Regions from separate parts of the Homo sapiens genome. Here region 1 is linked to region 2. The links come from fine-mapping of genetic effects on gene expression. A gene starts in region 2. The other region holds a variant in brackets. All regions are shown on one strand. Distances are from middle to middle. Region 1 has its middle 39 kb from the start of ENPP2. Region 2 holds the start of ENPP2 (ectonucleotide pyrophosphatase/phosphodiesterase 2).

Region 1 (5,214 bases), 39 kb after region 2:
TCAAGCGATTCTCCTGTCTCAGCCTCCCATGTAGCTGAGTTTACAGGAGCCCACTACTACAACTGGGTAATTTTTCTATTTTTAGTAGAGGTGGAGTTTCACTATATTTGCCAGGCTGGTCTCGAACTCCTGACCTGAAGTGATCCACCTGCCCTGGCCTCCCAAAGAGCTGGGATTACAGGTGTGAGCCACTGCGTCTGACCTCAGCTCCTTCTTGACAATACTTCCTCTATGTCTCCGACTAGTCTTTAATATCAATTTAGATCTGTCTCTCCTTCCACTTCAATTTGTTCATTTCTTTGTCCTACCATTGCCATACCCATCTGCAAATTCTCCACCGAAGATGTAGCTATCTGCTAGAGGTAAACATCATTCCAAAATCATGGCCATTGGCACCACCATTGATGTCTGGCCTACCCCTGGCTGGGCACTCAGCACCACCTCAGTTCTTACAAATGTCCCCAGCCAGCTCACTTCTCTAATTATGCAAAGTAACACTTCCCACCTCTTTAGAACCCTGATCCCACTCCCACCTGGCTTGCTTTCAGCAAACAAACTCTTTTCCCCCAATAAAGAACACAGTAGCTATCAGAAGGAAATTCTATTTCCTGTCCCTGCACCAGAAAAATATATCTATTCTCCACTTCTCCCTTCCTACCTCAGAGGTACCTCTTTTTCTGTGCACTGTAGATTCCCTCTCTTCCCACTTCCTATGGAAAACTCATCAACCATCGCCTTTCCTTTCAACTTCTTCTCTACTGATAACATCAGTTCATTTATTCCATAGGCATTTATAAAGCAACTATAATCAAGCGTCTTTGATTCTTCACATACACGGATAAATAAAACATTACAGCCTATAAACACATTAAAGTCCCTCCCACACACCATGTTTCCTCATGGAGTCTGAATATGTGCCAGTTCCTTGCAACAGTAACAACAACAACAGCACGTGCACCCAGCATGTGCCCACTGCCAGGAACATTCTTCCATAGATCTTCCAAGGCCAGTTTCTACTCATACTTTAGGTGCTGGCTTAATGTCACCTGCTCAAAGAGTTCTTCCTAGGATATGAACAGACACTTCTCAAAAAAAAGACATTTATGCAGCCAGCAAACATATGAAAAAAACTCATCATCACTGGTTATTAGAGAAACAAAAATCAAAACCACAGTGAGATACCATCTCATGCCAGTTAGAATGGTGATCATTAAAAAGTCAGGAAACAACAGATGCTGGCGAGGATGTGGAGAAATAAGAACGCTTTTACACTGTTGGTGGGAGTGTAAATTAGTTCAACTACTGTGGAAGACAGTGTGGTGATTCCTCAAGGATCCAGAGCTAGAAATACCATTTGACCCAGCCATCCCATTACTGGGTATATACCCAAAGGATTATAAATCATTCTACTATAAAGACACATGCACACGCATGTTTATTGCAGCACTATTCACAATAGCAAAGACTTGGAACCAATCCAAATGTCCATCAATGATAAACTGGATAAAGAAAATATAGCACATATATACCATGGAATACTATGCAGTCATAAAAATAATAAGTTCATGTCCTTTGCAGGGACATGGATGAAGCTGGAAACCATCATTCTCAGCAAACTAACACAGGAACAGAAAACCAAACACTGCATGTTCTCACTCATAAGTGACAGGTGAACAATGAGAACACACGGACACAGGGAGGGGAACATCACTCACCGAGGCCTGTTGGGGGTTGGGGGACAAGGGGAGGGAGAGCAGTAGGACAAATACCTGATGCATGCGGGGCTTAAAAACTAAATGACAGGTTGATAGGTGCCGCAAACCACCATGGCACATGTATACCAATGTAACAAATCTGCACATTCAGCACAGGTATCCCAGAACGTGAAGTAAAATTAAAAAAAAAATTACAGTGGGGCATGAGGAATTTTTGGAGATGGTAATTTGTGTTGATGATTGTACATATATATGTATGCATTTATATGTACATATGTAAGTAAATGTTAAAAAAAGAAAGAGTTCTTCCTTGACCAGCCAATCTAATGAGCCATCTTTTTCTTCGTTATTGG[C/T]TATCTTTTAACCTTTCCTGTTTCCTTCATATCAGTTATCTGATGTTGTGATGAAAAGCTTCTCAGTCTGCCCACTTGCTTATTTTCTGTTGTTTCCACTAGTCTGAACCTTCATGAGAACTGAGACTCTTATGTTTTACTCAGCACAGTATCTCGTACCTAGTAGGCAACTCAGAAAGCATTGTTGATTGTACACACCAGGTGCCAGCACCATATCTGCCTTAATCTTTTTTTTAATTTTTTCTTTATCTCTATCATACAGCCTACTGAATTTCAACATCAACTAAAATTAGAATCTCCCAGGCTCTTAACAATCTTCATGCCCAAAGCACACTCAGACCAGCTATCACTGAGGTGAGATTTAGGTAATTCCAAAAGCCAAGCTTGAGAACAACTGACCTAGCCTCTGCATGACACAAGTGAGGCTCAATAAAGGAGTGAAGAGATGAATGAATGTTCAGGGAATGGGGTCATTCAGCTTCTGCTTATCTTTAGTCCTCTTCTCCTTGGTCTCTCCCCACATAATCTGTTATCTAGGCATGCAAAGCCCCAAACAAGCCCTGCCCTCTCATTTTTCCAACCTTTCAAGTGGTGCTAGCTCTACTAAAACATCCATGCCCCAGCCTGGCTCCCTAAGGAGTTTCCCTACTGGTAAAATCTGGGTTTGGGTTCAACACAAGCTCCTCTGCCAGGCTCTGGGCCTCTTCTCTGCTTGCTCATGACATGCTATTAGTGCAGTCAAGGCTGCTTCCTGCTGCTGTGTCATGATTATTCTTGACCAAGAGCTCTTTTCTCCTGTGCCCCATGTGTGGCAGGCTGCCTAGTCAGCAATGGCATTCCACAGACGTTGTAGAAGGAAATGAAGTAACACACTTAATGAACTTTAAACGAGATGCTCTGCTTTCATTTCTGGGTGATTTTTGTTGTTGTTGTTGTTTTTAACAGCATTATTGAGACCTAGTCACATAATGTACAATTCACCAATTTAAATGGTACCATTCCATGGTTTTTAGGATAGTCACAAAAGTATATAACCATCACCACAATCAATTTTAGAATATTTCATCACTCCAAATCCAAAAGGAACCCCGTACTTATTAACAGTCATTCCCCTTGTACCCCTCATTCTCCCAGGCCTCAGTAACCATTCATAGAGACAGAATTCTGTTTCTATAGGTTTGCCTATTCTGGTCATTTCATATAAATAGAATCATACAACACCTTGTCTGTTGTGATTGGTATTAACTTCCACTTTTGAAGACCTATTTGTCTATAAGCATCACTCTCCTATTGAGTGTATACGATGGAATATGGACTCTGGTAGAGATCTTGAAGGATGAACCAAGGCAATGTTTCTTAGACCAAATTTCACAGCAGCCTGGTAAATCATCCAAATTCTTGAGCCCCAAGGTGAGAGAGTATAAGGAGGAAGGAGAATGGAGACACTTAGCTACACCTGTTACCCCAGAAGAGCAGGAAAGAGAGATGGATTTCAACAGGGCTCAGCTGTGCCTCCTACCGCCCCAGCCTGTCCCAGCTGGGCCATATGAACAGGACCTCCTGCACCATCAGGACCCCCACATTGAGGGCAAACTTCCAGAGTCAAAATCTAGATTTGCCACACATTACCTGTAACTTTTGATGTCCTGCTTCCTCATCTCTTAAAAAAGGATAGAAGTAATTCCTATTTTATAGATACCACATCATAGAATTGTGAAGATTTAATGAAAAAACACACATACAAGTGCATAGCACAGCACCTGGGACATTGTAAATACCAATGCATGTTTACACTTGTTGCTTGATCACAGCTGTTTGTATATTGTTCTTCTAAGCAATATTTAATATCGAAAGGGGGTTCTGATGCTTTAAAAAGTACTGCAAACCATTATTCTAGGAAAACTTCACATACCATGCAGGATTCTTCTGCCAGATGATCATCTGTGTTCTGCTTGCTATGAGCTAGGACAGTGGAAAGATTTAGATGAAGTTGAAGAGTAATTCACAGAAAGTGAAGGGAGAGATAGGTTACGTTCATTCCTAGCACAAAAAGTTGATGAAGGCTGGGTAGGGTGGCTCACGCCTGTAATCCCAACATTTTGGGAGGCCTAGGTGGGTGGCTTGCCTGAGGCCAGGAGTTAGAGACCAGCCTGGCCAACTTGAAGAAACCCCATCTCTATTAAAAATACAAAATTAAAAAAAAAAAAAAAAGCCAGGCATGGTGGTGAGCACCTGTAGTCCCAGCTACTTGGGAGGCTGAGGCACAAGAATTGCTTGAACCCAGGAGGTGGAAGTTATAGTGAGCCAAGATTGTGCCAGTGCACTCCAGCTTGGGTGACAGAGTGAGACTCCGTCTAAATAAATTTTTTTTTAAAGTTGATGGAAAGCATCTAATTCTTCCTACCATATATTCACCAGTACCACTAGTAGGCAGAGTCTGTTGGCTTTATGGAACTTGGTTCAGTTCACCAAGGGCAGATCATCTATTCACCTGCACCCCTCTCCCACAATTTCTTTATTTTCTTTGTACTATTTTTATGTGCCAGACCTGTATGTGCTGTCTCCTAAATAGATCTGAATACAAGCCCTCAGGAGGTGTCTCCAAAATACACCTGAAATCGGCCCTTGGGGTGCTGACCCTCCGTAGGCAATCTACTGGTCAGATACAACCATCTGTCTGCATCAGACAGTGCAGCAAGGAGCCACAGGGTATCTTGATTTTGCTGTCAGCTGGTCAGACAATTATCCTGCAAGCTCCCGGGGAGCTGTTCTTGCATGTAAGCCTCACATGTCTATTTCAAGTTGTGTAGCATAATTAGTGGACCTTTGTCTCACTTCCACTGCTTTGAATGGGCTTGCCTGCACATCTGGCAAACCTTTGCTCAGATTCCGCTCCACCATCCCTCATGACGTTCCCTTCTCTATGATTCCCCAGCTAGGACAGCTCCTAGGACAGTGCCCGGTTGTCACCTGTGTATAAGACCAACTCTGCTGCTGCACTGTGAGCATTAGTAAGGACCTTTTTCCTTTATCTTTGTGTCTCCCAGTCTAGCCTTGGGTCTAGCACAAAAAATGCTCATTCCTCCCTTTGACAGATATGCATTGAGATCCTATTGTGGGCTGAAACTTCAAAATGCAAACATTTC
Region 2 (5,214 bases):
TTACTATACACAAAATATTTTCAAAGACTAATAAATCCAATCTATACTTTTCAAGTTTTCCAGTAGTGAGCACAGAAATTCAAGAGGCAATGAAACAGAATAATTCCTGGGATTTTTTTTTTTTAATCCAGAAAGAAAAGTAGAAATCATCTAAGTCTGCTCCTCATTGTACAGCTAAGGAAACAGACTTCACAAGTGACTTGCCCAACACCACACAGCAAGTTACAGGACTCCAGGGTACCAGCCTAGGATTTTAATGACTGTTTTCCAAAAGAAGTCACCTTTAAAAATAATGAGTGACTCAATTTTACATTCATTAAGGAAACAGCATTTAATTCTTTCAATCTCAGTTTTAGCCAGAGTAATATATTAAGAGGAAACAGAAAAAAAAAGTTCCCTTTAGTGTTCATTGAAAAGAACCAGCAGTTGGCTCTCAAGTTGCTAGCTTTCCCACATGACCATGCTAAGGATCTGATTCCCCTGTCTGTTCAGTCACAGTCAGTGTTAATGGGAGTGAAAAAGAGGCCTTTGAAGAGAGCATTTGCTGCAAATAAAAACAGCATTCTCTAGCTCAGTGATCCACTGTCCTCTGCCTCCCCAACAGAAGACGACTCATTTTGTCCATTTGGCTCCCTGGGGCTGCAAGTTTTGTGATCTATTTTCTCACTCTTAACCCCGCCACACCCCACTTCAATTCACTAATTCACTTCTAATATTATTCTTTCAACCTACTGGCATGATTCAAAAGTAACTTAATTGATGTAAGGAAGATTTAGTATTCCATCAATGTATGTGTCCTAACCCGGTTGATAATAAAATTTCAAGCTGGCTAAACAGAGGCAAGTGATGGTCTTTCATAACAATCAGATCAAGACATACAGAGAAACACAAAATTCACAGGAAGACAGACAAACATGCTGGAATGTCAGGAAAAGTCCAGAAAATATTGTTCCCTAGAGTGCCCATTACTTAAAATGTAATTTTTTATTTCTAAAACCATCAGCAGCTCCAATTTCCAGGAAATTAACCAACTCATTGCTTAAGACCTGGTCAGTTAAGCCCCCTCTGTCTGCACAAGGAGCTCCTTTATAAGAACACTGTATGGGAACACTACTTATGGTGTAGTGTATTGTAAAAAGAAACTCTTTCACTTTGGTTCTATTATTTAAGTCAAGGTACACTATTAAAACTTACCTTTCCTTTGCCATAAGGACACACAATGAGGACAAATCAATCCTGAAAACTCTTTAAACACCTCCTCTCTTTTATGTTTTTCCAATTTTAAGTAAATCTTAAAGTCCTAAATTTCTGAAGTTTCATAAAGATAGCTCACTGCCTTTTTTACTTCCATTCCTTTTTCCTACATCAGAACTTTCTAGTGGCAAATACTACATCCTATATCATGTGACAGCAAATCAGATTTGGGTAGCTCCAATATTAAACCAACACCTGTTCTCACCACTTCTACTTTAGCCTTGTCTGTGAACAAGAGTTTTAATTGTATCCTAACATTTACAAATTTGAGTACAAAAATGGAAATAGCCAGTTATGAAACAATCATAAATGTTCTCTAATGAAAACCACACTCTCCCACCTGAATTATACACATAGGTGGTTTTACCCAGAGAAATTTAGGACTAACTTAGTTATACTGCAAGATTGTATTAAAAATAAATATTTTAATAAGCTTACATTGATTACCCCGTATGTAATATTTTTAAAAAATTGAAAATGCAAATAGTTTTGACACTTACCTGTAGGAGGACCTTCCTCCCATCCTTCTGCTCTCTTAATTCGATGTGCAGTGAATCCTAAGCAGATATTGACTCCAACGGCAAAAGTGAACAGGGATATTATCTAAGAGAATAAAGAGACCAAGTTGTCAAATACAGCTGGAGAAGACTAAATCAAATTACACAAAGGTGATTCAAATGGCTTCAATATCAACACCCAATCCTACCACTTCCAAAATGCATAATAAGGTGCTATCTTAATTTGCACAACAAAAAGGAAAATGCCAATCAGTCACTGATTCTGAAGATCAAGCATGTCCCCCGTCATTCCTCCGTTCTCCCACCTGACACGACTGGAACGAGCTCCTCCTTGCCATGTCGAGGATTCTTGGAAAGCCTTTTGCAGCGTGTTCTCTTTGCCTTCACGGAGTGCACTGCTTTGAGGCTCTGGGTTTAGTCTATTAACTATAAGCAATCCCACCTGGGAGGTTGACAGACTCCTCTGATTTGTCCAGAGCTTGATTACATCACAGGGTGTTCACAAATCGCAGCTCTGAGCCTAAGAGGCTTAAGCTATCATCCCCCTTATCCCCGCCCCCTTACAGGTCCCTCCCCTAACCCACAGACACTTTCATGTGGTATCCTCTGGCAACAGGAGGGTTTGTTACATTGCCGTGGCCCATAACAGTGCATGTTCATTTTCCTTTCCTCACAAAAACATGGTTTGTCAAAAAGAAACCAAATGCATTTCATCCGATAAAAATGAAAACAGGGCTGTGCAAGGGCTTTCCACCAGCTTTAAGCTTTTAAGGTTTACAATGCAGTCATTCAATGGCGTCAACCTCACCACTTTATTTTTTTAAGCAAGGAAAGTTTTATCATTTATAAACCTAATAACGTTCCTGTCTTTCCCATCTATTTATTTTGCTGGCAGTTTGAGCGACCCTGTCCCTAGTATCACATTCTCAGCTACTTCTGCCTCCTTGAAAGTTTCTCATGATGAAATTTCGCAAAATTGTAACTAACATAAAAGATAACATTATTTTCCCCATGCTGTGGTTCAAGTTTAGAGAAGTAACTTTTATCAAAATACTGGAAATGCCAGCCACGCAGCATAAAGTCCTTCTGCCCTGGGAGGACGGACAAAATAACTTCAGTCTCTGCCTCTTCTTCCCGTAAAGACTGTCAGCTTGTTTCGGGCGGGGCGGAGGAGGGGGCGGTTTTTGAGAGGCAGATGGGTGGGGGAAGGGGATGGCATGGGAAGCTTTATTAGCAATTGAATTTAGGAAGGAAATCTCAATGGCAGCAAGAATTGAAATGTCAAGAATTGTTTCCCTAGTTATTTCTTGGTTAAATGTAGCCACCAAATACTGTGTCCTTTGAGGCTATTGTGGGTACTAAAGTTTCTTTACTAAGCAATTTGGCAACCAGCACACTTTCAAAAGAAAAAATCAAGGGCTCTAAATCTGAAAGTTGTTTAAATATTACATGCCTTCAGGATTCAAATGAGGGAAAAAGATTTGTTTTTGGCCTCTTCCTCAGCAGGTCCAGTGACCATCTTTTCTTCCGCAGCACATGTGTTCGTGCGTAAACAAATACGAGACTTACCATGCAACAAATTAGTAACAGAGTAGTGGCTCTGCTCAAATAAAACATGATAGCACAAAAGCAAAAACTTGTTTATAGGGGGTTGTACAGTAGGCCTGGGTTTCATTACAGATTCTTAGAATCTAGTAATATCTAATTGAAAAAAAGAAAATACACATACTGCCAAACTGTTAATTGCCTTTCTAAAATCCTTTTAGTTTTGCACTGTTGCAAAGAGGACAGGCTTATACATTTTTATATGTAAGCCTCTTGCTTTTGTCTGTATGCCATACTGAACAAATTTGGAGTAGGGTATTTAGCAAGGCTTATAAAAGATGTTAACTCCATGAAAGATTTTCCTATAATTTATGTTAAATTTCAAGATACAAGCCAGACATGATAGAGGAAAACAATAAACCCCAAAGAAAAATATCAAGGCAATCCTGTTATTTCATTATATGCCACAGTGCTCTAAATGTTCTAAAAACAAAAACAGCCTCTTCTTTTGCCTTGCCAGAGTCTAACAACTTTTGACTTTGTCTGATATTTGATTGTATAAACCTAGCTAGAAGACAATGAGGGTTCCCTTGGAAAAAAAGTTAGGGTTCAGGAGCTGAACATCATCCATTTATTTTTCTCTTATATGCAGACTAGCTGGGCAGGGGGAAAAGCTGTAATAGCCAAGTTGATCTGCTTGTTACCCAATATCCAAAAGAGTTGACCTCAGCCACTATTTCTTTGTTTTTTTGTTTTTGTTTGTTTATTTGTTTATTTTGAGATGGAGTTTCACTCTTGTTGCCCAGGCTGGAGTGCAATGGCTCGATCTCGGCTCACTGCAGCCTCCACCTCCCGGGTTCAAGTGATTCCTGTCTCAGCCTCCCGAGTAGCTGGGATTACAGGTGCATGCCAACACGCCTGGCTAATTTTTGTATTTTTAATACAGACAGGGTTTCACCATGTTGGTCAGGATGGTCTCGAACTCCTGACCTCAGGTGATCCGCCCATCTCAGCCTCCCAAAGTGCTGGGATTACAGGTGTGAACCACCGTGCCTGGCCCTCAGCCACTATTTCTGTTAACCGTTCTGCCAAAGAACTTTGTCTTTTACCAGCTTGTTGTGCATAAGGAACATGTTAACATGAACACATACACGCACACACACAAGCATATATGTGCATACACACATCATTTTGCCACAGTTAAACAGATTTTTACTACAAGATTATTGTTATAAATTAACTGTCAGGAGAATGACCAAGATGACCAAAGTCCCTACCTCGGCTATCAAATTAACTACAAAATAAAATTATCCCTCATTACCTAAAGCTGAAAAAAAAAAACAAAAAAAAGCTTCACAGTGCATAAAGTAGGTTAAGAAATTCAACTAAAATGACTGGAATTAGTCCAAAACCTTTTGTAAGAAAACTAAATTATGAGAAGTTCACTTGCTATGGTGTTTAAGATTTTGTAATAAGGACACATGTGGCTGGCTCAGTAAACAAGAAGTGCATAAGAAAGACTGAAAAATTAAATTCCAACATGGTTTATTAGCCCAGCCATATTTCAGAGAACACTGCCCCCTGGCAGAAGAAAACCTAGAACTAGAAACAAATATTTGTCAACAGTCTCAGTCCCTAGAAATCATTCTGTGGTTTTCAAATTTTATTGGGTATCAGAATCACCCTGGAGCCTTGTTTAAAATGCTGATGTTTATGTCCTGCGTATCAAGATCCTGATTCATTAGGTCTGGCAGGTGGGGAGAAGAAAGAGGAGTTTAGAGGTCAGACAAGAACTGGCACAATAGGTTACTTTGATGAAAGTCAGATAAGAACCACGTTTATGGAGATAAGACCTGGTTCCTGCAGCAGACGTGATTGACTGGCTTCAATAATTGTG

Evidence for each region. PIP is the estimated chance that this variant, and not a neighbour inherited with it, causes the effect. A credible set is the group of variants that fine-mapping cannot tell apart.
Region 1: its variant is the best candidate, but not a certain one, in a credible set for the expression of ENPP2 in whole blood (TOPMed, PIP 0.79).

The regions. Positions count from the first base shown.
Region 1 is chr8:119,675,390-119,680,603 of GRCh38, forward strand. No RefSeq gene overlaps it. Among named protein-coding and RNA genes, the nearest start is that of ENPP2, 39 kb to the left of the region's middle. The variant C/T (reference allele first, on the strand shown) is at 2,069.
Region 2 is chr8:119,636,671-119,641,884 of GRCh38, forward strand. It overlaps ENPP2 (ectonucleotide pyrophosphatase/phosphodiesterase 2), which reads right to left and starts at 2,169. Exons shown (of 25, transcript NM_001040092.3): 1 at 2,078-2,169; 2 at 1,755-1,857. The coding sequence starts at 2,110. RefSeq lists a silencer at 2,285-2,384.